Linked DNA regions of Homo sapiens: regions 1 and 2 are each linked to region 3. A link means that fine-mapping ties the variant in region 3 to the expression of a gene that starts in the linked region. Tissue or cell type: whole blood. Region 3 holds a variant in brackets; each other region holds the start of a gene. All regions are shown on one strand. Distances are between the middles of the regions.

Region 1 (8,100 bases), 75 kb before region 3:
CAGGTCAGTGTCCTGGACATCCCTCCCTTTCCCCCACACCCTCCACTGCAGAGCCCAGAGCGTGGGAGGCTGCAGGCCCTGGGGCAGCCAGGCGTGATCCCAGCCCCAGACACGCACACACCACACATAGAAAGAGGAACATCACTGGGGACTTACCGTGTGTAGGGCTTGGCTCTAAACTCTCCACACCTTTTACGTATTTGATCCTTACAACCTGAGCTGGATTCTGTATGTACCCTCATTTTACAGCAGGGAAAACTGAGGCTCAGAGAGGGTAAGCAACTTGCCTGCGGTCACACAGCCAAAAAGAGACCAGGATGGGAGCCAGCCAAGGTAGCTTGACTCAGAAACTCACACATGTACACCACAGCTGTCACACACATATGGGCACATAACAGAGTGGACACAAACACACACACACACATTTGCACGCACGCACACATTAACACCCAGCGAAAGTCTGGGTGCAGTGGCTCATGCCTGAAAGCCAGCACTTTGGGAGGCCGGGGCAGGTGGATTACCTGAGGTCAGGAGTTCGAAACCATCCTTGCCAACATGCTAAAACCCCGTCTCTACTAACAATACAAAAATTAGCTGGGCATGGTGGCATGCGCCAGTAATCCCAGCTACGCGGGAGGCTGAGGCAGGAGAATTGCTTGAAGCCAGGAGGTGGAGGTTGCAGTAAGCCGAGATCGAGCAACCGCATGCACTCCAGCCTGGGCGACAAGACTGAAATTCCATCTCAAAAATAAATAAATAAATAAATAAATAAATAATAAATAAATAATAATAAAGTGAGGAATTAATTAATTAAAATAAAAAATAAATATAAAAGACACAGCTGTAAATTTTTAAATTGTGATAGAAACAATATATTCTTAAAGTGAAAACCCTACCTCAGTTACATGTGATTTATGTTTTTTGGATTAATCTGGATTTTATAATTAGAAATAAAAATGTAAGGCTGGGCGCGGTGGCTCACGCCTGTAATCCCAGCACTTTGGGAGGCCAAGGTGGGCAGATCACGAGGTCAGCAATTCGAGACCAGCCTGGCCAAGATGGTGAAACCCCGTCTCTACTAAAAATACAAAAATTTGCCGGGTGTGGTGGCCCATGCCTGTAATCCCAGCTACTCAGGAGGCTGAGGCAGGAGAATCGCTTGAACCCGGGGGGCGGAGGTTGCAGTGAGCCACTGCACTCCAGCCTGGGCGACAGAGTAAGACTCTGTCTCAAAAAAAAAAAAAAAAAAAAGAAAAGAAATAAAAATGTAAGATTTTGAGTCCACATAATTATTTGTTGAAAATAATACAAGTCAGTATAATAGAGAAGCATTCATATATTCAACACTGTGAGACAAAACACCAGAGACCTTGGATTTGATAATTGATCTGATATCCTGGACAGTATTCATATGTACAGTGATAGCTATCTTTCTTTGGTGTTTTTTTTGTTTTGTTTGTGTGTGTGGTGTGTGTGTGTGTGTGTGTGTGTGTGTGTAGTTTTATGGTTCTGAGTTGGTGGCCAGTAAGTTCCATGTAGTGTTGGCACTTATTTAATTAACTATTCATGATTTTGTTAATAGCTTGTTATAGAATTCAGGCATATATTTTTCAGCATAAGAAGCCAAGCACACCAGCTTGTCATTGGAGAGAATATATTAAGTGAGAAAAACATTCAGGAATCAGAGCTTTAACATGTTAAAGTTAGTGCTAAACATTGTCATATTGGATCTGAACCTATCCTAATATATAACCATAAAGCTTGACTTCTGCATTGGAACTATGCTTTCATAAATAAAGGATATCTCATTGATTAAAAAAAATTTTTAAAAAGACACAGCTGGAAACATAACAGTTTCAGGCAACAACTGTATGTTCCAAATATGGTCACACACACATCACAACTTAAAGGGAAATGGGGTGGGCTGAGTGGGTCTTTATCTGTGTGTCAGGCTTGTCCACATCCTGGTTCTTGTGATCACACAGTAGTGCACAGATACAAAACAGGTACACACAGTTGACACCCGGAAACCTATCCACCGCACCACAGAGGTCACCGTCTGTCTCCCACACACTCGGTCACATTTTCACACAAGTCAAATCACACGAGGACGGAACTGGGGGAAGTAACCATGCAGTCATTTCCCAGGGGTACAAAGAAACTCACATAGAGCCCCACAGAGCCCAGGCCCAGGGTCTGAGACCTGTCCAAAGGCCCCACCGACGACCAGCCACACGCCGGGAGAGTCACCTCCTTCCCCTGGTCTGCACCATCCTGAGCTCCCGAGTAACTCGAGTGGACTCCAGGGTTGAAAAAGGAAATGGTCGTCCCAGATCTGAGAGAGGCTGCCAGGCTGGGCTCTGGGCCTGGGTTGGGGCCCCCACACTGGGCCCCTCGGCCCCCCACCCTCAGCCCCCTCTGGCTTCCCCATTGGCAGTAGAGAGGGAGGGAACTTCATAAGTCACAGAGAGGGGCTGAAGAATACAGAGAGTCAGACAGATGGAGATGGGAGAGGCATAGGGAGATGGGAGAGACATAGGGAGATGGCAGAGAAAGGGAGAGACGGGGAGATGGGGAGAGACAGAGAGAGATGGGAAGATGGGGAGAGACCACAGGGAGGCAGATGAGAAGAAAGAAACAGGGATGGGGCCAGACACAGAGAAAGGAAACTTCTTTAGTTTCCATCTTCAGTTATAAATGATGAAAGAGACAACTGATGACAGAGACAAAGTTACAAGAGGGAGAAAGAGACAGGGGGAAGACGAGGGGGAGGGGAGACACATCTGGGGGAGAGGAGGAAGAATTGGGGTGCCAGAGAGAGCAAGGAGGGAGAGGAGGCCGATGGGGGAGGAGAGAGTAATGTTCAGCCCAGTGAGGGGGTGTCCCTTTCCCCCACTGCAAGGTTTTGGGGAAGAAGCCAGAGGCCTGAGGCCAAGACTGAGGCTTTGAGCGGAAAGAAGGAGGGGGCGAGTTATTCACGAAACGCCCGCCTTGCCCTGAGTTTCCAGAAGGTGATGTGGAGTTTCCATCCCTCAGCCTGTCTGCAGACAGGGGTACCCGGGGAGGACAGCTGGCCCAGAGGAGTTGCGAGACTAAAGTGAATGATTGCCACAGTCATTCCCTCCGGTGGCTTCTCCCCAAGTACTTGGCGCCAGAGCGCCCAACATTGTGCATACATGGTCGCTCCTAATTCGTGGGCCCGGGGGACATTATCAGCCTTACTTTGGGATATTTTAGGAGCCTCGGAATGCAGAAAGTGGTTTTAGCCCAGCTGGAGGAAATGGGCCGAAGCGGGATTCGAACCGGCGGATTCGTTTCTCTGCAGCCCGGAGCCGCGTAGCCCCGCCCCGGTCTCCCTAGAAACAGGCACCCGTGTCTCCATAGCAACCGCTCCATCTGATTGCCCCTCCCCGCTCCCAGAGGCCACCTAGTGCGCAGGCCCGCCTGATGTCGTCCCACGCCGTGCCGGCTCTCAGGCGCCGGAAGTGAGCTGCGCAGCGCCGGAAGCGGCGGACGCAGGAGGCCTCGTGGAGGACACAGCAGCATGGGACAGTCAGGGAGGGTAAGGCCCGGCAGCTTGGGAGGCAGGTGGCGCAGGTGGGGTCCCGGCCGAGGTCGCGGCGCTGACCCTTTGTCTCTCGTCGCCGCAGTCCCGGCACCAGAAGCGCGCCCGCGCCCAGGCGCAGCTCCGCAACCTCGAGGCCTATGCCGCGAACCCGCACTCGTTCGTGTTCACGCGAGGCTGCACGGGTCGCAACATCCGGCAGCTCAGCCTGGACGTGCGGCGGGTCATGGAGCCGCTCACTGCCAGCCGTCTGCAGGTTTGTACCCCACCCCCAGCCCGCCTCCACCCACCCTCGGCCTAGTCTTCGTAGCTGCAGTAATGGCTCCCGCTGTAAAACTGTGGGAGGACTTAAGTCTCCCCAGCTGGAAAAAAAGACCCTCATGGGGAGCATCATTTCTGCCTTTCAGGGCTTTTGCTGGGCTGGAGTGAGGGCGCGCAGCTTGGGAGATAGATAGTCGCCTAAGCCTGACAGTTAAGACTGGAATCTGGAGCCGGGCGTGGTGGCTCATGCCTGTATTCCCAGCATTTGGGGATGCTGATGCGGGAGGATCACTTGAGCCCAGGAATTCGAGACCAGCCTGAGCAGCATGGTGAAACCCCGTCTTTACAAAAAATAGAAAAATTAGTCGGATATGGTGTTGCGTGCCTGTAGTCCCGGCTACTCGGGAGGCTGAGGTGGGAGGATTCCTTGAGCCCAGGAAATTAAGGCTGTAGTGAATCGGGATCGTGCCACTTCACTCCAGTCTGGGCGACCGGAGGAGACCGTGTTAGAAAAAAAAAGACTAGAATCTGGAGGCAGCAAAGCAGGGTTGGAAACTGACTTCTCCCCAGTATCTGATGCAAGTTACTTAACCTCTCTGGGCCTGAGTTCGCTCATTTGTCAATGGGAAGATGCGCTGTGAGCAAGAGACAGAGTTAGAACTCAAATCTGCGTCCGACTGACTCTAAAGGCTAAGATCCTTTTGCTCCTCTGGGCTTGTTGAAAGGGTCAGATGCAAGACAGACCATAACAGGATCTGCACCGTCAGCTTATAGTTGTCACAACAAGGGATAAGCTATGTTTTCTTTTTTTCTTTTTGTCATTTCCAGGTTCGTAAGAAGAACTCGCTGAAGGACTGCGTGGCAGTGGCTGGGCCCCTCGGGGTCACACACTTTCTGATCCTGAGCAAAACAGAGACCAATGTCTACTTTGTGAGTAGACGCCCTCACCCTTCATCTCCCCCAGACCCCCCCTTCCCCTATCTCTCATGATGAACACATATGCCTCTGAGCTGCTGTGATTTCTGGCTTCAAAGTAAACGCTCTGAAGAAGAGATGGGGCAAAGGTGCCTACTCCGGGCACCTCTGCTAGACCCCTCCAGAGTCACTGATCTTTTCTTCTCCTGCAGAAGCTGATGCGCCTCCCAGGAGGCCCCACCTTGACCTTCCAGGTCAAGAAGGTGAGAGGGGTGGAGGTGGTACAAAGCCATGTGGGGTGGGAGCTGGACTTGGGGTTGTCCGCAGCCATGTGTGGTTGGTGGTCACCCCCTCCTCTCTCCTGTCCTACAGTACTCGCTGGTGCGTGATGTGGTCTCCTCACTGCGCCGGCACCGCATGCACGAGCAGCAGTTTGCCCACCCACCCCTCCTGGTACTCAACAGCTTTGGCCCCCATGGTATGCATGTGAAGCTCATGGCCACCATGTTCCAGAACCTGTTCCCCTCCATCAACGTGCACAAGGTGGGTCTGGCCTGGCGAGGTGGCAGGTATGGGGGGGTGCAGCGGATAGAGGTGCCACAGGCCCTCAGATGGATTGCTCACTCCTCCCAGCGCTGAGACTGGGAGCTCCTGGGTCTGCTGAGTCCTGAGGTCAAATCCCACTCCTGTGTCTGATGATGCTGGGCAAAAGTGTCCAGAGATTCCCCCAGCGGTCCACACCCCGTGAGCTGCACCTTTTCCAGCCGGTGGAAAGAAATACTGATGGAGCTCTGTTTCCCACGTGTGTTGAGTGCTGGGCTGAGCAGGATCGTAGCATCTCTTCTTAGGGCCCTGTTTTACAGAGGGAAGCTGCGGGCCCAGTGCTATGGCTTCGGCCTGTAATCCCAGTACTTTGGGAGGGCGAGGTGGGAGGATCGCTTGAAGCCAAGACTTTGAGATCAGCCTGTGCAACATAGCGAGACCCCATGTCTACAAAAAGTAGATTTTTAAAAAGCCCGGTGTGGCGGTGCATGCCTGTAGTACCAGCTACTGGGGAGGCTGAGGTGGGAGGATCACCTGAGCCCAGGAGGTCAAGGCTGCAGTGAGTTGTGTTCACGCCACTCTACTCCATCCTGGGTGACAAAGCGAGACACTGTCTCAAAAAAAAAAAAAAAAGCAAATCTGAGGCTGGCAGAGATGCTAAGTTTAGATTCCAGGGGGCAGGACTGGATTTTTAATTTCATCTGGCTCCTGAGTCCTAGCTCCTAATCCTTGTCACTAGTGACTCTCAGATGGGACTTATAAATTATATATAAGATATCAGTCATCAGGGAGGCTAATACGGCTCTGGGACCAGAATTTCTTGTTTACCTTTTTTTTTTTTTTTTGAGACGGAGTCTTGCTCTGTCTCCCAGGCTGGAGTGCGGTGGCACAATCTCATCTCATTGCAAGCTCCGCCTCCCAGGTTCACGCCATTCTCCTGCCTCAGCCTCCCGAGTAGCTGGGACTACAGGTGCCCGCCACCACACCCCGGCTAATTTTTTGTATTTTTAGTAGAGACAGGATTTCACCGTGTTAGCCAGGGTGGTCTTGATCTGACCTCGTGAGCTGCCCGCCTCGGCCTCCCAAAGTGCTGGGATTACAGGCGTGAGCCACCGTGCCCGGCCTTCTTTACTTTTTTTTTAAGAGACGGGGTCTCCGTACGTTGGTCTTGAACTCCTGGGCACAAGCAATCCTGCAGCCTCCGCTTCCCGAGTAGCTGAGACTACAGGCGTGCACCACCACATCCAACTCATTTTTCCATCTACTTTTTGTAGACATGGAGACTCGCCGTGTTGCCCAGGCTGGTTTTGAACTCCTGGGCTCAGGCAGTCCCACCACTTCAGCCTCTGGAGTAGCTAAAACTGCAGGTGCGAGCTGGAAGCAGCATTTCTAGCCAGTGCCACAGTCCACGAACAGTGTGTGTATCCCCCAAAGCCCCCACTTCCCCAAACTTTGCCATGAGTCTACTGGACTATGCTCTCTTCCTCCCCTTCCAGGTGAACCTGAACACCATCAAGCGCTGCCTCCTCATCGACTACAACCCCGACTCCCAGGAGCTGGACTTCCGCCACTAGTGAGTGTCCCAGCAGGATGGGAGACGAGGGGGTGCCGGGTGGGGGCCTCCACATGCGGCTGATGACAGCACTTCTGCTGAGACGCTGTGATTGCTCTGTCCAAAGTAAACGCCCTGACGCACTGTGGGAAGGGTGAGATGGGCACCGCCAGCCCCATCACGTGCCCCCTGACCACCCCCTTGCCGTCCACTCATGTTCCTGCAGTAGCATCAAAGTTGTTCCTGTGGGCGCGAGTCGCGGGATGAAGAAGCTGCTCCAGGAGAAGTTCCCCAACATGAGCCGCCTGCAGGACATCAGCGAGCTGCTGGCCACGTGAGGAGGGCATAGGGCGGGAGGCCACTGCGGCCCGGGGACCCCAGAACAGGACCGGGAGCCTGAGCTCCCCCACTGAGCCCTGTTATGTCCTACACACAGGGGCGCGGGGCTGTCGGAGAGCGAGGCAGAGCCTGACGGCGACCACAACATCACAGAGCTGCCTCAGGCTGTCGCTGGCCGTGGCAACATGCGGGCCCAGCAGAGTGCAGTGCGGCTCACCGAGGTGAGGCCCAGGGCAGGGGGACCCCCGGGCTCCACCAGTCCCAACGGTGGGCTGACGCTTCTTCCTCGTCCCCTCAGATCGGCCCGCGGATGACACTGCAGCTCATCAAGGTCCAGGAGGGCGTCGGGGAGGGCAAAGTGATGTTCCACAGTTTTGGTGAGGCCGGGGCCGCCGGGGGTGGGGGGTCATGGGTGTGGAGCTGCACCCGGATCTTGGTGACCCGCGTCTCTTGGCTCAGTGAGCAAGACGGAGGAGGAGCTGCAGGCCATCCTGGAAGCCAAGGAGAAGAAGCTGCGGCTGAAGGCGCAGAGGCAGGCCCAGCAGGCCCAGAATGTGCAGCGCAAGCAGGAGCAGCGGGAGGCCCACAGGTCCAGGCAGAGCTGGGAAGGGCAGGGCCAAGGGGGGGTCCCTGGGATGGGCGGCTATGTTGACCCCCACGCCCTCCTCCAGAAAGAAGAGCCTGGAGGGCATGAAGAAGGCACGGGTCGGGGGTAGTGATGAAGAGGCCTCTGGGATCCCTTCAAGGACGGCGAGCCTGGAGTTGGGTGAGGACGATGATGAACAGGAAGATGATGACATCGAGTATTTCTGCCAGGCGGTGGGCGAGGCGCCCAGTGAGGGTATGGAGTGGGGTCTGCAGCAGGGCACCCAGAGCCTGTCCTTGTCTCTGGGGGCCCTGACACTGTCTCTCCCCACAGACCTGT
Region 2 (8,100 bases), 96 kb before region 3:
CGAGACTCCATCTCAAAAACAAAAAAAAGGAAGAAGAATAAGAGGAGGAGGAGGAGGAAGAGAAGGAGGAGGAGGGAGGAGGAGGAAGGAGGAGGAGGAAGGAGAAGGACAAAGAGAAGAAGAAGACAGCAACAGAAAATGAGAGACATGATTAATCCAGCATGCTTAATAGTTTAGTAGTAGATTTTTCCATGGTGTCCTTCCCAAAAGGTTTCACCAACGGATGCTGTCTCTAATGATTTGGGAGATTTCTCATTTCCCTACAGCTTCTCCAGCTCTGAGCATTCCCGATCAATTTTTCATTTGACTCAACTGGAGTGGGAAATTGACTAGATTGTGAAAAGCATGCACATGCTCCAATGGTCTCCATCTCCTCCACAATATTTTTTTTCTTTTCTTTTTTTTTTTTTTTTTGAGATGGAGTTTTGCTCTTGTTGCCCAGGCTGGAGTACAATGGCACGATCTCGGCTCACCGCAACCTCCGCCTCCTGGGTTCAAGCAATTCTCCTGCCTCAGCCTCCCGAGTAGCTAGGATTACAGGCATGCGCCACCATGCCTGGCTAATTTTGTATTTTTAGTAGAGACAGGGTTTCTCCATGTTGGTCAGGCTGGTCTGGAACTCCCGACCTCAGGTGATCCCCACCTTGGGCTCTCAGCCTCCCAAGGTGCTGGGATTACAGGCGTGAGCCACCGTGCCCAGCAATTTTTTTTTTTTTTTGAGATGGAGTCTCACTCTATTGCCCAGGCTGGAGTGTAGTTGTGCGATCTCGGCTCACGGCAACCTCTGCCTCCCGGGTTCAAGTGATTCCCCCACCTCAGCCTCCCGAGTAGCTGGGACTACAGGCACACACCACCATGCCTGGCTATTTTTTGTATTTTTAGTAGACAGGATTTTGCCATGTTGGCCAGGCTGGTTTCGAACTCTTGGCCTCAAGTGATCTGCCCTCCTGGGCCTCCCAAAGTGCTGGGATTACAGGTGTGAGCCACTGCACCCGGCCTTCCTCCATAATTGAACACAGTCGCCCAGCTTAAGCCTCCAAGGGTCCAGTTCCAGGTCAAGATTTGCTGCTTTTTTTGTTTTGTTTTGTTTTGTTTCGTTTTGGTTTTGAGACAGAGTCTTGCTCTGTCACCCAGGCTGGAGTGCAGTGGCATAATCTTGGCTCACTGCAACCTCTGCCTCCTGGGTTCAAGTGATTTTCCTGCCTCAGCCTCCCAAATAGCTGGGATTACAGGTACCCGCCACCACGCCCAGCTAATTTTTGTATTTTTAGTAGAGATGAGGTTTCCATGTTAGCCAGGCTGGTCTCGAATTCCTGACCTCAGGTGATCCACCTACTTTGGTCTCGTAAAGTGCTGGGGTTACAAGAGTGAGCCACCGCGCCTGGCTGATGGGGTCTCACTATGTTGCCCAGCATGGCCTCGAAATCCTGGCCTCAAGTGATCCTCCTGCCTTGGCTTCCCAAGTGCCGAGATTACAGGCATGAGCCACTGTGCCCAGTCAATGAGCTTTTAATGTACATAATGTGGCTGAAGTGATGTGGGACTTTCAGGCTAGATCATAAAAAGATACAACTTCCACCTGGCTCTCAGCTCTTGGAAGGTGCTCGGGAGGCCAGCTCCCATGCTGGGAGTACACTCATGCCACTCAAGTATACTGGGAGGAATCGAGGCATCCCGCCAATCATAGCACCCATCTGCATGCCCTGAGAGTGAGCCACCTTGGAAGCAGATTCGCCAGCCCCCGTCAAACCTTCAGATGACTGAAGCCCTGACCAACTCCTTAACTGCAACCTTCTGAGAGGCCCTGAGCCAGAACAGCCCAGCAGCAAAGCCATTTCTCAAGTCCTAAGCTACAAAGACCACATGAAATCATAAGGATGGACCAGGTGCAGTGACTCACACCTGAAATCCCAGCATTTTGGGAGGCCAAGGCAACAGGATCACTTAAGCCCAGGGGTTCAAGACCAGCCTGGGCAACATAGTGAGACCCCCCCGCCCCCAGCTCTACAAAAAAGTATAAAAATTAGCCGGGAGTGGTGGCACATGCATGTAGTCCCAACTACTCGGGAGGCTGAGGCAGGAGAATTGCCTGAACCCGGGAGGCAGAGGTTGCAGCGAGCCGAGATCGTGCCACTGCACTGCAACCTGGGTGACAGAGCAAGACTCTGTCTCAAAACAAAAACAAAACCCAAACAAAACAACAACAAAATAACAAACAAATTAGCCGGATGTGGTGGCACATACCTGCAGTCCCAGCTACTCAGAAGGCCAAGGCCGGAGGATTGCTTGAGCTCAGGAGGTTGAGGCTGCAGCGGAGCTATGATTGTGCCACTGCACGCCAGCCTGGGTGACAGAGTGAGACCCCGTCTCTTAAAACAAATTTAAAAAAATGCTAGCTCTACGAGGGCAGGGATCTTTGTTTTGTTTGCTGTCATGTCCACAGTGCCTGGAACAGCATTGGGAACAGAGTACACGCTCTATGTGGTTGCCACGGTGATTATAACCTAACAGACCTTTGGTCTGCATATTCTGCGCTAAAAAAAAAAATCAAAAAACAAAAAACCTACCAGATCTGATTTATGTCAGGGCTAGCTCAGACTCTTACCTGTTTCCTGCCCACTCAGTGCCCATCTCGGCCAGTGAATGGGACATAGCTATGACCTCCCTCTGCACTGGGCAAATAGATTAGTAACTGGCAACTATGACAGGCGATCCACTCCAAACCTCGCCACTTCCCTCAGGATAAAATCCCAGGTCTTCTGTGCAGTTTCCAGCCCCCATCCTGCCTAGGATTCCACCATTCAGCCACAAGGAATCATGAACTGCTTGTAGTTTGCAAATACAGTAGTCTCCAGAGTGGAGTACATACACCCTATAAACAAAGCTTTGGGGTTCAACTGGAAAAACTTTAGAATATCTAGATTTGGGGGGTTTTATTGTTTGTTTTTTAGTCTTTTAAAAATAACTTTTTCCTTTTCTTTTTTCTTTTTTTAAAGACAAGGTCTTGCTATGTTGCCCAGGCTGGTTTTGAACTCCTGACCTCCAGTGATTCTCCCACCTTGACCTCCCAAAGTGCTAGCATTACAGGTGTGAACCATCATGCCCAGCTCCATTTATCTATCAATATTTTATATAACAGTTAACAGAATATATTGATATAATTGTATTTGTATATAATTTATAAATAATATCCATCTTTGAGGCCAGGAGTTTGAGACCAGCCTGGGCAACATAGTGAGACCCCGTCTCTACAAAAAAAATAGAAAATTAACCAGGCATAGTGGCATATGCCAGTAGTCCCAGCTACTTAGCAGGCTGAGGCAGGAGGATCGTTTGAGCCCAGGAGTTAGAGGCTGCAGTGAGCCACCATCAAACCACTGCACTCCAGCCTGGGCAACAGAGCAAGATCTTGTCTCAAAAAATAAATAAATGAATAAATATCCATCTGGGGGTGTAACTTTAACACTTTTACCTATAGGGGTGTGCAATGGAGAAAAAAATTTGGAGTCGTTGAACACAATGCTATTTTGCTCCTCAGAGAGTATCCGGCAGTCTCTGGAGACGTTTTTGGTAGTCACAACAGGGAGAGTAGGGAACCACTGGCATCTAGTGGGTGGAGGCCAGGGATGGTGTTAAATGTCCCCCAATACACAGGACAGTCCCCCACACAAAGAACTAGGCCGCCCAAAGTGTCAAGAGTGCTGGGCTTGAGAAGCCATTGCCCAAAAACCCCAGACTTAGTCTTGCTTTGGGGGCTCTGCACGGCTGCCTCATCTCCCCACTCTATTCCTCCCCTAGCTAAGACCTCCAATTTCAGTGACTCTACAAAGCATCCCCTCCTCCAATGAAGTTGCCATCTCTGTGTCCCCAGGCTGGGCCAGAGCCCCACCACCTAAGGGCTCCCTGATGTGCCCTGTACTGGGTTAGAATTGTCCGTCCCACGGGGTTCTTAACCATTGCAGATTCCCTGGATCCCTGAGACAGCCGGATTCTACCGGGCTACTAGAGACCAAGAATCTGTATTTTTCTCAAGCACCGCTCCCCCCAACCACACACACACTGCCTGCCCCTATCAAGGGCACACAGCAGGTGGCCCAGTGACTAGTTGAACGCCTACTGCAAGCCAGGCGCTATTACGCGATCCACTCGGGAATCTTGGCACATACTCCACTCCATGGTGTAGACACCAGGATTCTCCCCATTTCACAGAGGGGTAAACTGAGGTTGAGAGAGGTGACCGTAGCTAGGACAGAGACTCAGGGCAGGAAAAGGGCCCAGGTCCTCATGAGCGCCAGATTCCCGGGGAAGGAGGGAGAACAGAGAGGAGGGTGATGAACTGGGGGAGCGCGCGCTGGGTGGGGGGGCGCGGGGCCTCGCCGCGGCCTTCTGATGCGGCCCCGCCCCCACGAGGGACGTGAAGACGCGGACCCCGCGCAGCGTGGGGACATGTGACCGACTGCAGAGGCCGCGCCGCCTCCCCCGTCCGAGGTCTGCGCGCTCCGCCGCAGGGTGCAGACCCGGGGCGCCCGCCTGGGTTTGGGGCGCAAGAGCAGAGGCGGAGCCAGGGCGGAGCCAGCGCGCCGGGTCCCCCCTGAATCGAAAGCGAAACAGGGGCCGGGGAGGAAGGGCGGAGCCGGCCCCGAGGCACCGCCCCCTGCCCTGCGCGGCTGCTGGACCGACGGGCGCACCCAGGTAGGGGGGCGGCTGAGCCGCGCAGTGCGGACCCTCGCGGGGAACTGCGCCGCCGCCACCATGTCTCAGGAAGGTGTGGAGGTAAGCGATGGCTACGGCTGGGCCGGGGTCAGCCGCGACAGACCCCGAGGAGCGGCCGGGAGGCGCGGAGGGGGCTTCGCAGTTCCTGGGGACCCCCATCCTAGAACCCCAGATCCTTACCCCTGCCTGGCGCTCGCCCCCCTTGAAAAGGAAAGTGACTCCCACGTTTCCCCAGAGCGAAATGAGGCCTCCCCGAGGAAAAGCGGGGGCTGCAGGGTCAAAGGTCAGAGGCCAGAGATAACCTGGCCGCCCCCCCACACCTTAGGCTGGGACGCTCGCCCCAGTCCGCGCCTTCCCCCAACGCCCTGTGGGGACTTTGGCTTTTTCCAGGAAATGCCGTAAAGGGATGAAAGGCGGGGGGGGGGCGGCGGAGGCCAAAACCAAGGGTCAAGTTCGGGCCGGGAGAACGGTGCCTAGAGATGGGGGAGGGATGATCCCGTTTCCCCTTCCCCCACCGGAACCCCCCTGTCTCCATCCCAGCTGGAGAAGAGCGTCCGGCGCCTCCGGGAGAAGTTTCATGGGAAGGTATCCTCCAAGAAGGCGGGGGCTCTGATGAGGAAATTCGGCAGCGACCACACGGGAGTGGGGCGCTCCATCGTGTACGGTGAGGCTGCAGGGGTCCCGGGCCTGGTGCGGGGACCGCGCGTGGGAGCGCCGAGGGGGCGTGGTCTAGGGAGAGGCGTTGAGATCACCTCCCCCGGAGGTCCCAGCCTTGGGGAGGCTCTGCGTCGCGGCTCTGGGTGGCCTGGAACTCCCACAGACCCTTCAAGGGCCCTTCCCTTATATGCACTCTCCCCCGCAGGGGTAAAGCAAAAAGATGGCCAAGAACTAAGTAACGATCTGGATGCCCAGGTAACCTATCCCCTCCCCTCGCAAAGGACCGGGTCACGGGAGGGAGAGCAAGAGGGGGGACCCGACCCGTTCATGGTGACTGACCCCCCTCTGAAACAGGAGGGACCAGGCATTGTCGGTCCATAACTCATCACCCAATCTCACTTTTTCACCTCTCCATCATTTGTCCGGCCAGGGAGCCTGCAAACAGTAGGCGCTCATTATGTGCTGATTGTATTCAATGGGGGAGAGAGCCATGAAACTAAGCAATGAAAGGAGCCAGGATTATTGCCATCATAGCGGGGGCGCAGAGGTCAGAGAAGGCTTACTGGAGGAGGAGGTACCAAGTCTTAAAGGATGGGGAGGAGTGAGCCCTGGGAGGGGAAAGGGAAAGAAAGGCAGGGGTCTTGGGGTGGGGGAGGGAATGGCATAAGCAAAGGCTGGGAGGTGGGGAAGGGTTGTTAGTGGCAGTCTCTAGAAAGGCTAGGATGAGCAGAGGATTGGGGAGGAGAGAGAGGCAGGGGAATGGAACCCTTGTGTTGAATGAATGAATGAATGAATGAATGAATGAATGAATGAATGGCTTTGAAGCACAGGTGCATCATGGCTACTTTGCTTCTTTGACAGCTTTGGTGATGGGAACGCTGTGGATTTAGCCTGCCTGAAAGGCTTAGTGTAGGGCTGTTAAAGAGTATAATAGGCCAGGCGCGGTGGCTCACGCCTGCAATCCCAACATTTTGGGAGGCCGAGGCGGGCGGATCACCTGAGGTCGGGAGTTTGAGACCAGCCTGACCAACATGGAGAAACCCGTCTCTACTAAAAAATACAAAATTAGCTGGGCATGGTGGCGCATGCCTGTAATCCCAGCTACTCGGGAGGCTGAGGCAGGAGAATCACTTGAACCCAGGAGGCGGAGGTTGCAGTGAGCTGAGATCACACCATTGCACTCCAGCCTGGGCAACAAGAGCGAAACTCTGTCTCAAAAAAAAAAAAAAAAAAAAAATGCCGGGCGCGGTGGCTCACGCCTGTAATCCCAGCACTTTGGGAGGCCAAGGCGGGCGGATCATGAGGTCAGGAGATCGAGACCATCCTGGCTAACATGGTGAAACCCCATCTATACTAAAAATACGAAAAAAAAAATTAGCCAGTTGTGCTGGCAGGCCCCTGTAGTCCCAGCTACTCAGGAGGCTGAGGCAGGAGAATGGCGTGAACCCGGGAGGCGGAGCTTGCAGTGAGCCGAGATCGCACCACTGCACTCCAGCCTGGGCAACAGAGCGATTCTCCGTCTCAAACAAACAAAAACAAACAAAACCAGAGTATAACAAAACATGTATCATAGTCTACATTTATACATATAAAAGTATGATAAAAATGATAGCAGAGGGGCCAGGTGTGGTGGCTCACGCCTGTAATTCCAGCACTTTGGGAGGTTGAGGCGGGCAGATCACTTGAGGTCAGGAGTTCGAGATTAGCCTGGCCAACACGGTGAAACCCCTTCTCTATTAAAAATACAAAAAATTAGCTGGGCGTGGCAGTGCATGCTTGTAATCCCAGCTACTTGGCAGGCTAAGGCAGAAGAATCACTTGAACCTGGGAGGCAGAGGTTGCAGTCAGCCAAGATTGTGCCATTGCACTCTAGCCTGGGAGACAAGAGCGAAACTCCGTCTCAAAAATATAATAATAATAATAATAATAATAATAATAATAATAATATTAGCAGAGAGTAGCATTCATTGAGTACTTCCCACATGGCAAGATTCCAGGAATTTATTTATTTCATCACTGCAGTGACCCCAGGAGACAGGTCCTATTATTTATCCCCATTTCACAGACAAAGAAACTGAGGCCGAAGTCACTTGCCAGCAAGCAGGGGCAGCTGCGATTTGAACCCTGGCCACCTGGAGTCAGAGCCTGGGCTCTAACATGCCTGTCAGTGGGAACCCAGGGGGCAGGGAGTGGCTTGCCCAAGTCCCCACAGCTGGAAGTGATACAGCTGGGATTTGAACCCACATCTCTCTCCCACTTAGCCGAGCACAACGTGGCCTCAAAGGGGCGATATGTCACAACATCAACAAGCATGTGGCATTTGCAGGCAGGAAGTGAGTATGGGGGTCAGGCTAGCCTCACTCAGGCAAGCCCTCCCCTAAGCCTCAGTTTCCCCATCTGAGCAATAAGGTAACAGGTGTGCCCACCTCTCAGGGCTGCTATGAGGACAACTGAGGCCACACACCTGGCTCTCAATAAGTGAGTGGTGCTCTGTGAGCTTCTGGCGAGTTAGGGGCACCCTACTCATTGCGGCCGGGGGCCTCCCCCAGCAAACGGGTGGAAAGAGGCCTGAGCCCCATCCCCAGTTTCTGCCCCTGCTATCTCCACCCAGGATCCACCAGAAGATATGAAGCAGGACCGGGACATTCAGGTGAGTTGGTGGCTAGGGCTTGGGATGGGGGAGTTGGGAGGGGGACATCTGCAGGCACAGAAGGATGTCCATTAGGGCAG
Region 3 (8,100 bases):
CAGCTCCTCAGGAGGCTGAGGCAAAAAAATCACTTGAACCCAGGAGGTGGAGGTTGTGGTGAGCCGAGATTGTGCCACTGCACTCCAGCCTGGCAACAGAGTAAGACTCCATCTCAAAAAAAAATAAAATAAAGGGCCAGGTGAGGTGGCTTACACCTGTAATCTCAGCACTTTGGGAGGCCAAGGCAGGTGGATCACCTGAGGTCAGGAGTTCGAGACCACCTTGGCCAACATGGTGAAACCCTGTCTCTACTAAAAATACAAAAATTAACTGGGCGTGGTGGCGCATGCCTCCATCTCAAAAAATAAAATAAAAATTAAAAGAAAATAAAATAAGGCTGGGCATGGTGGCTCACGCCTGTAATCCCAACACTTTGGGAGGCCGAGGCAGGTGGATCACGAGGTCGGGATATTGAGACCATCCTGGCTAACACAGTGAAACCCCATCCTACTAAAAATACAAAAAATTATCCAGGCGTGGTGTGCGCCTGTAGTCCCAGCTACTTGGGAGGCTGAGGCAGGAGAATGGCATGAACCTGGGAGGTGGAGCTTGCAGTGAGCCGAGATCGTGCCACTGGGCAACAGAGCGAGATTCTCTCTCAAAAATAATAATAAAATAAAACAAAATAAAAATGAAGTAGCTGAGAACCAGACCTGAGCTCAAGTACTATCCTATTGTTTGTTTTTTAAAAAATTCCAGAAGAGGCTGGGCGCGGTGGCTCACGCCTGTAATCCCAGCACTTTGGGAGGCCGAGGCGGGCGGATCATGAGGTCAGGAGATCGAAATCATCCTGGCTAATATGGTGAAATCCCGTCTCTACTAAAAAATACAAAAAAAATTAGCCGGGCATGGTGGCGGGCGCCTGTAGTCCCAGCTACTCGGGAGGCTGAGGCAAAAGAATGGCATGAACCTGGGAGGCAGAGCTTGCAGTGAGCCGAGATTGCGCCACTGCACTTCAGCCTGGGAGACAACAAGACTCCATCTCAAAAAAAAAAAAAAAAAAAAAAAATTTCCATTAGAGTTCCTTTGCCTAAAACTGGGCAAGAGTCTGAGAATAAATGTTTAACCAGGCATATAAGGTCTTAGAAGGAGTAAGTATTTGTAGCACTTGTCATCTGCAACCTGTCACACTCATAGCCATGTTTTGGGATCTAATGCTGCAACTTGGTCGAAAACAACATTTTTTTTTTTTTGAGACAGTGTCTTACTCTTGTTGCCCAGGCTGGAATTACAGACACCCGCCACCACGTCTGGCAAATTTTTTGTATTTTCAGTAGAGACAGGGTTTTGCCATGTTGGGCAGGGTGGTCTCGAACTCCTGACCTCAGGTGATCCAGCCACCTTGGCCACCCAAAGTGCAGGGATTACAGGCATGAGCCACCACACCCCCAGCTAAGACAAAATTTAAAGACGTACACATCTAAGCTAGTTAGGAAGTGTCCAGTAATTACTAGTGAGGATGCGTACAAAAGAAAGGAACCTGGACACACTGACCTGGGGTCCAAGTTTAACTGCCCCCTTATATGCTACCAAAGCCTGCTTCTAGGTTGAAAATGAGCCAAGTGGGGCCGGGCACGGTGGCTCACACCTGTAATCCCAGCACTTTGGGAAGCTAAGGCGGGAGGACCACTTGAGGTCAGGAGTTCCAGACCAGTCTGGCCAACATGGTGAAACCCCATCTCTACTAAAAATACAAAGATTAGCTGGGCATGGTGGTGCCCGCCTGTAATACTAGCTACTTGGGAGGCTGAGGCAGGAGAATCGCTTGAAACTGGGAGGCGGAGGTTGCAGTGAGCCGAGATCGCGCCATTGCACTCTATCCTGGGCGATAGAGCAAGACTCTGTCATTAAAAAAAAAAAAAAAAGAAAGAAAGAAAGAGAGTTAAGCAGGGCCAGGCGTGGTGGCTTATGCCTGTAATCCCAGCACTTTGGGAGGCCAAGGCAGGTGGATTACTTGAGGTCAGGAGTTCTGGACCAGCCTGGCCAACATGGTAAGACCCCATCTCTACTAAATACAAAAATTAGCTGGGTGTGGTGGCACATACCTCTAATCCCAGTTACTTGGGAGGCTGAGGCAGGAGGGTCTCTTGAACCTGGGAGGCAGAGGTTACAGTGAGCCGAGGTTACACCACTGTGCTCCAGACTGGGCAACACAGTGAGACTCCATCTCAAAAACAATTAAAAATAAAAGGAATCATCTGCTCTTACGCTTAGCCTCTCCATCGGACTTGCTCCTCCTGGGCGTGCGAGGTTTGGAAAGGGGTTTGGGGGGGCTGTTGGCATCTGCCATTCCCACTCTACGGGCTTCACTTCTTGCTTGGTTCCCGTTTTCTAGACGTCCATTCACTTCCCGGTTGTAAGCATGAGCACCGTTCTCCAAGGACAAATCTTTATTTAAAAGGGATTTGACTTTAGCCAGGTAGCCCTCCTACAGCAGGAAAGGATAATTTAAGTAGCAGTGAATGTAAACAAGTGTCAGAGAACAAGGAAACACATGTGTTTCCTTCATCATCATCATCATCATCATCATCATCAGGCAATGAGGACAGCTGGGGATCTTGCTGCCTCCCTGGTCACAGACAAGTTACTAGGAGGAGACATTTTTCTAGAGGCTAGGATGCTGAGAACTGACTTACCTCGGATAATTCTTCTTTACGTAATTTGGTTTCCAAGTCACATAACTGATTCTTTATTTCTGTTTGCAGAAATTCGTGCAAGAGATTCAATTTCTCCTTCACACATTCCTAAGGGAAGGATATAGGTTTAGCAGTACCCACATTCCCAAGCTATTCACTAGTGGACTAATACACAAATTATTGAGCTGCCTGATCACATCACAATGAGTGAATGGCAGGCAATGCTGTCTCAGTCAAAACACTAAACAGTCATGAAATGTGTTCAGGGAATTTCCATTAGGATCACTTCACTCCTGTCTCCAAAGTGGTGAAAAATGGGAAAGCTGGAGGTGAGATGGAGACATATCATGGTTTATAAGAATAATACTGTGCTTCTGTAAAGTGTCGGCCAGGCACAGTGGCTCACACCTATAATCCCAGCACTTTGGGAGGCCGAGGCAAGTGGATTGCTTTGAGCCCCAGAGTTCAAGACCAGCCTGGGGCAACATGACAAAATCCCATCTTTACAAAAAATATTT[A/G]AAAATTAGCTGGGCATGGTGGCTTGAGCCTGTAGTTAGAGCTACTCAGGAGGCTGAGTGGGAAAATCACTTGAGCCTGGGAGGCGAAGGTTGCAGTGAGCCAAAATTGTGCCACTGCACTCCAGCCTGGGCTACAGAATGAGACCCTATCTCAAAACAATAACAAAAACACAATAAAACAGTGTTACCAGGACAAGTTACAATCCAGAGTAGATTGTTTAGGAACTGAGATTGGTTAAAAAAAAAAAAAACCTGGGCCAGGCATGGTGGCTCACGCCTGTAATTCCAGCACTTTGGGAGGCCAAGGTGGGCAGATCACGAGCAGGCGTTCAAGACCAGTCTGGCCAACATGGTGAAACCCCATCTCTACTAATAATATAAAAATTAGCTGGGCATGGTGGTGCGTGCCTGTAGTCCCAGCTACTTGGGAGGCTGAGGCAGGAGAACAGCTTGAATCCGGGAGGCAGAGGTCACAGTGAGCCGAGATCATGCCATTGCACTCTAGCCTGGGTGACAGAGTGAGACTCTGTCTCAAAAAACAAAAACAACAACAAAAAAAAACACCACCACCACCCAACTATTAGCAGCAAATTAGTGCTGACATTTAACAAGAATATCCAAATTATCTTTGAAACTCCATGGGAAAAAATGCAAAATCCATTTAAAGAAAACAAATTTCTTTTTATGAGCCACAAAGTGTGTCAGTCAGATTTGGTAATAAGAAAAATTTTAAGGTGGAGATTACCTTTTCTGTTAAGCTGTCTCTTTCCAAATCTTTGAGCCTGGGAGGAAGAAATAGGGGAGAAAATACAAACACTTGTTAAGCAACTTCATTTGCCTGTAAGAATATCACAGTTCTAAAGAAGTTTTGGACACAAACAAGTTTAACATATGAGTGTTAGAAAAAACTAAGCTGGCTTTTGTCTCCCCGCAAGAGTCTAGAGTGTCCTACTGGAATGCCTAATGCTAAGAAGTCATCTGATCTGAACAAGGTTCCCCTTTTGGGGGTCATTTTTCTGATGATTGTGAGATTACATAGCAGCTCTGTAACACAATTATGTGTATGTGTGTGTGTGTGTATATATATACATATATATGTGTATATATATACATATATATGTGTATATATATGTGTGTATATATATACATATATATGTGTATATATATGTGTGTATATATATACATATATATGTGTATATATATGTGTGTATATATATACATATATATGTGTATATGTGTATATATACATATGTGTATATATATATACACACACACACAGCAGCTCTGTAACAGAGTATGTGTGTATATATGTATGTATATATGTGTATATATATACACACACATATATACATACATACATATACATTATACAGATAGATAGACAGACAGACAGACATGGAGTCTCGCTCTGTTGCCCAGGCTGGAGTGCAGTGGTGCGATCTCAGCTCACTGCAACCCTCACCTTCTGGGTTCAAGTGATTCTCTCACCTCAGCCTCCCAAGTAGCTGGGATTATAGGTGCCACCAGCCTCGTTAATTTTTTGTATTTTGAGTAGAGACAGGGTTTCACCATGTTGGTTAAGCTGGTCTTAGATTCCTGACCTCAAGTGATCCGCCTGCCTCAGTCTCCTGAAGTGCTAGGATTACAGGCATGAGTCACCATGTCTGGCATGCATATATATATACACGTATATATATACACGTATATGTGTGTATATATACATATATATGTGTATATATACGTATATATGTGTATACATACGTATATATGTATACATATGTGTGTGTATATATATATACACGTATATATACGTGTGTATATATATATATATTTTTTTTTTTTGAGATAGGGTTTTGCTCTTGTTGCCCAGGCTGGAGTGCAATGGTGTGATCTCAGCTCAACCTCCGACTCCCAGGTTCAAGCGATTCTCCTGGCTCAGCCTCCCGAGTAGCTGGGATTACAGGCATGCACCACCACACCCAGCTAATTTTATATTTTTAGCAGAGACAGGGTTTCTCCGTGTTGGTCAGGCTGGTTTCGAACTCCCGACCTCAGGCGATCCACCTGCCTCAGCCTCCCAAAGTGCTGGGATTACAGGCATGAGCCATCATGCCCAGCCTGTATATTTTAAAAGGTACCAGAGACCAGGCATGGTGGCTCACGCTTATAATCCCAGCACTTTGGGAGGCCAAGGCGAGCGGATCACTTGAGCCCAGGCGTTCAGACCAGCCTGGGAAACATGGCGAAACTCCATCTCTACAAAAATACAAAAATTAGTGGCTGGGCGTGGTGGCTGATGCCTGGAATCCCAACATACAGCAGCAGTTGGGTGGATTACCTGAGGGCCAAGGTGGGTGGATTACCTGAGGTCAAGGGTTTGAGACCAGCCTGGCCAACATGGCGAAACCCCATCTCTACTAAAAATACAAAAATTAGCCAGGCGTGGTGGTGGGTGGCTGTAATCCCAGCAACTTGGGAGGCTGAGGCAGGAGAATCACTTGAACCCGGGAGGCAGAGGTTGCAGTGAGCTGGTCACACCATTGCACTCTAGCCTGGGCAACAAGAGTGAAACTCTGTCTCAAAATAAAATAAAATAAAATAAAATAAAAATAACTGGGTTTGGTGGCATGTGCTTGTGGTCCCAGTTACTTGGGAGGCTGAGGAAGGAAGATCACCTGAGCCTGGGAGGTCGAGGCCACAGTGAGCCGTGATTGCATCACTGCACTCCAATCTAGGAGACAGAGTGAGACCCTGACTCAAAAAGATACCAGGAAAGAGGGGGCAGGTCATATAGTTGGGGCACTCCCGTAAGGGAAATGACCTACAGCTGGTCTTTCTCCAGTTGGGTCTGACAACAGCCCATAACAAGGTGTGCCACAGTATGGCCAGTGTCAGAATGAGTAGCCCAGGGCCACAGGACACTGTGGGGAACAGCCAGCTGATGTTCCTAAAGGCCTGGTGGGGGGTGGTGGCATTTTGAGGATGAAATGGGGGAGTCAAGCATCCAGGGAAGCAAGGGGTACCCACACAGAGGGCAGATAGAGGTGAAGTTAGAGGAGGTGGCTGGCGCCTCCCCGAATAACTCATTCTTCAGGATGTCTCTAGCTAGTCATTCCTAAATGTAGAACTGCCAGGAGTTTGCCTGGGAAATCGTGGTCTGATTTGATTACTGACAATTAGTAGCTTGACTCTTTCAGGGACAAAGAGGGAAAAAAATAAAAGAACAATAGCCGGTGCAGTGCCGCGGTGCTGCGTGCCTGTAACCCCAGCTACTCAGGAGGCTGTGGTGGGAGGATGGCTTGTGGGCAGGAGTTCGAGTCCAGCCTGGACAACATAGGGCGATCCTATCTCTTCAGAAAAAAATAAAGGAACAAGAAGAGAAGGTACCAAGGAAAGGGAGAGGAACACAGGCTGTTGTTCCCAGCCTGGGTGCTAACTACAGACTGCGGGGTGAGAACAGGCCTAACCAGCTGGGTAAGTGTCTGTTGGTGGAGAGAAGGTGCCCCAGGCAGGGACCAGGCCACTGCCATCTCTGGACCTTTCCACCTAGCACCCGCACAGACAGGTGCTCAGTTATCATTTGCCTGAAGGGCAGAAGTGGCTCCTCCAGGCTGGCCTTCCTAGAGGGTAAGTGCAGGCAGCAGCATGAGGAATGCTTTGCTGGACCCATGTCTTACAACAGCTGCTCTGGGTCATGCGGGCCCTGATTCCCCACCAGCGCCGCTCACATATGAGCACCTGCTGAATGCCAGGCCCTGCTCCAGGCAAAGAGCTAAGTGATTAGATGTAGGTGTCACTAGGCAGGGACTTCCTGACTTGCTGTGTGGTTAGGAAAGACCATTCTGTAGGGCCGGGCACGGTGGCTCACGCCTGTAATCCCAGCACTTTGGAAGGCTGAGGTGGGCGGATCATGAGGTCAGGAGATGGAGACCATCCTGGCTAACACAGTGAAACCCCGCCTCTACTAAAAATACAAAAAATTAGCCAGGCGTGGTGGTGGGCGCCTGTAGTCCCAGCTACTCAGGAGGCTGAGGCAGAAGAATGGCGTGAACCCGGGAGGTGAAGCTTGCAGTGAGCCAAGATCATGCCACTGCACTCCAGCCTGGGCAACAGAGCAAAACTCTGTCTCAAAAAAAAAAAAAAAAGACTGCTCTGTAGAAGAGACACTTAGCACCCTACAAACACAGTGGTAATATAGACTGTATATTATATATACTGTATCACTTGGACTCAAGGTGCTACAAGGCCAGGCAAGACGCAGTGGCTCATGCCTGTAATCCCAGCACCTTGGGAGGCCAAGGCAGGAGGATCACTTGAGGTCAGGAGTTTGAGACCAGCCTGGGCTACACTGAGAGATCCCATCTCTACAAAAAAAATGTAAAAATTAGCTGGGTGTGGTTAGTGTGCACCTGTGGTACCAGCTACTTGGGAGGCTGAGGTGGGAGGATCGCTTGAGCCTGGGAGGTTGAGGCTGCAGTGAGTTATGATGGTACCACTGCAATCCAGCCTGTTCAGCCTGGGCAACAGAACAAGACCCTGTCTCAAAAGAAAAAAAAAAAAAAAAAAAGATGCTTTGACATCAGGATTTCCAGGAGCACAAGGAACCTCTTCCAGGCAAAAGTCATTCTACCCTTGTAGCAACTGGGGTCCAAGGAGAGCCTTAAGTCAGGAGGGCTACAGAAACTGGTACTTCCAGCCAGAGGCACACACGCTGTGGTAATAGCGTTACACTTGACTTCTCAGTCACGCCGCTGAGAAAACTGGAAGGACATGGCTTCTACCTCGACCAAGCCAGCCAGTCCCCTGATCCCGAGGTTGCCTGGGGTGTGAAGGACAAGGTTCAACTGATTGCGGAGACCAAGGTGTCCTTGCAGAATGGGTCTGCTTTCTTTCAACCCCTCATATGAACTGGGATATTTAGCCTGGCAAAGAGAATAGAGAAACC

The links. PIP is the estimated chance that this variant, and not a neighbour inherited with it, causes the effect.
Region 1: it holds the start of PPAN, and the variant in region 3 is fine-mapped to the expression of PPAN in whole blood (TOPMed, PIP above 0.99).
Region 2: SHFL starts here. The variant in region 3 is fine-mapped to the expression of SHFL in whole blood (TOPMed, PIP 0.98).

The regions. Positions count from the first base shown.
Region 1 is chr19:10,102,851-10,110,950 of GRCh38, forward strand. PPAN (peter pan homolog) reads left to right here and starts at 3,512. Exons shown (of 12, transcript NM_020230.7): 1 at 3,512-3,562; 2 at 3,651-3,821; 3 at 4,655-4,756; 4 at 4,954-5,004; 5 at 5,114-5,284; 6 at 6,781-6,857; 7 at 7,063-7,170; 8 at 7,273-7,396; 9 at 7,474-7,552; 10 at 7,635-7,764; 11 at 7,847-8,016; 12 at 8,095-8,100. The coding sequence starts at 3,545. It overlaps PPAN-P2RY11 (PPAN-P2RY11 readthrough), which reads left to right and starts at 3,512. Exons shown (of 13, transcript NM_001198690.2): 1 at 3,512-3,562; 2 at 3,651-3,821; 3 at 4,655-4,756; 4 at 4,954-5,004; 5 at 5,114-5,284; 6 at 6,781-6,857; 7 at 7,063-7,170; 8 at 7,273-7,396; 9 at 7,474-7,552; 10 at 7,635-7,764; 11 at 7,847-8,016; 12 at 8,095-8,100. The coding sequence starts at 3,545. SNORD105 (small nucleolar RNA, C/D box 105) reads left to right here and starts at 4,801; the gene lies at 4,801-4,885. It overlaps SNORD105B (small nucleolar RNA, C/D box 105B), which reads left to right and starts at 6,899; the gene lies at 6,899-6,990. It also overlaps a transcript of ANGPTL6 not described here. RefSeq lists enhancers at 1-7, 3,149-3,792, 3,389-3,438, 5,081-5,724, 6,636-7,217 and a silencer at 3,659-3,708.
Region 2 is chr19:10,081,676-10,089,775 of GRCh38, forward strand. SHFL (shiftless antiviral inhibitor of ribosomal frameshifting) reads left to right here and starts at 4,642. Exons shown (of 8, transcript NM_018381.4): 1 at 4,642-4,773; 2 at 5,254-5,377; 3 at 5,576-5,625; 4 at 7,982-8,020. The coding sequence starts at 4,753. RefSeq lists silencers at 4,341-4,560, 4,631-4,910.
Region 3 is chr19:10,178,141-10,186,240 of GRCh38, forward strand. DNMT1 (DNA methyltransferase 1) reads right to left here. Exons shown (of 41, transcript NM_001130823.3): 2 at 3,901-3,937; 3 at 2,638-2,745; 4 at 2,210-2,429; 5 at 2,047-2,094. Among named protein-coding and RNA genes, the nearest start is that of DNMT1, 13 kb to the right of the region's middle. RefSeq lists an enhancer at 5,795-6,295. The variant A/G (reference allele first, on the strand shown) is at 3,156.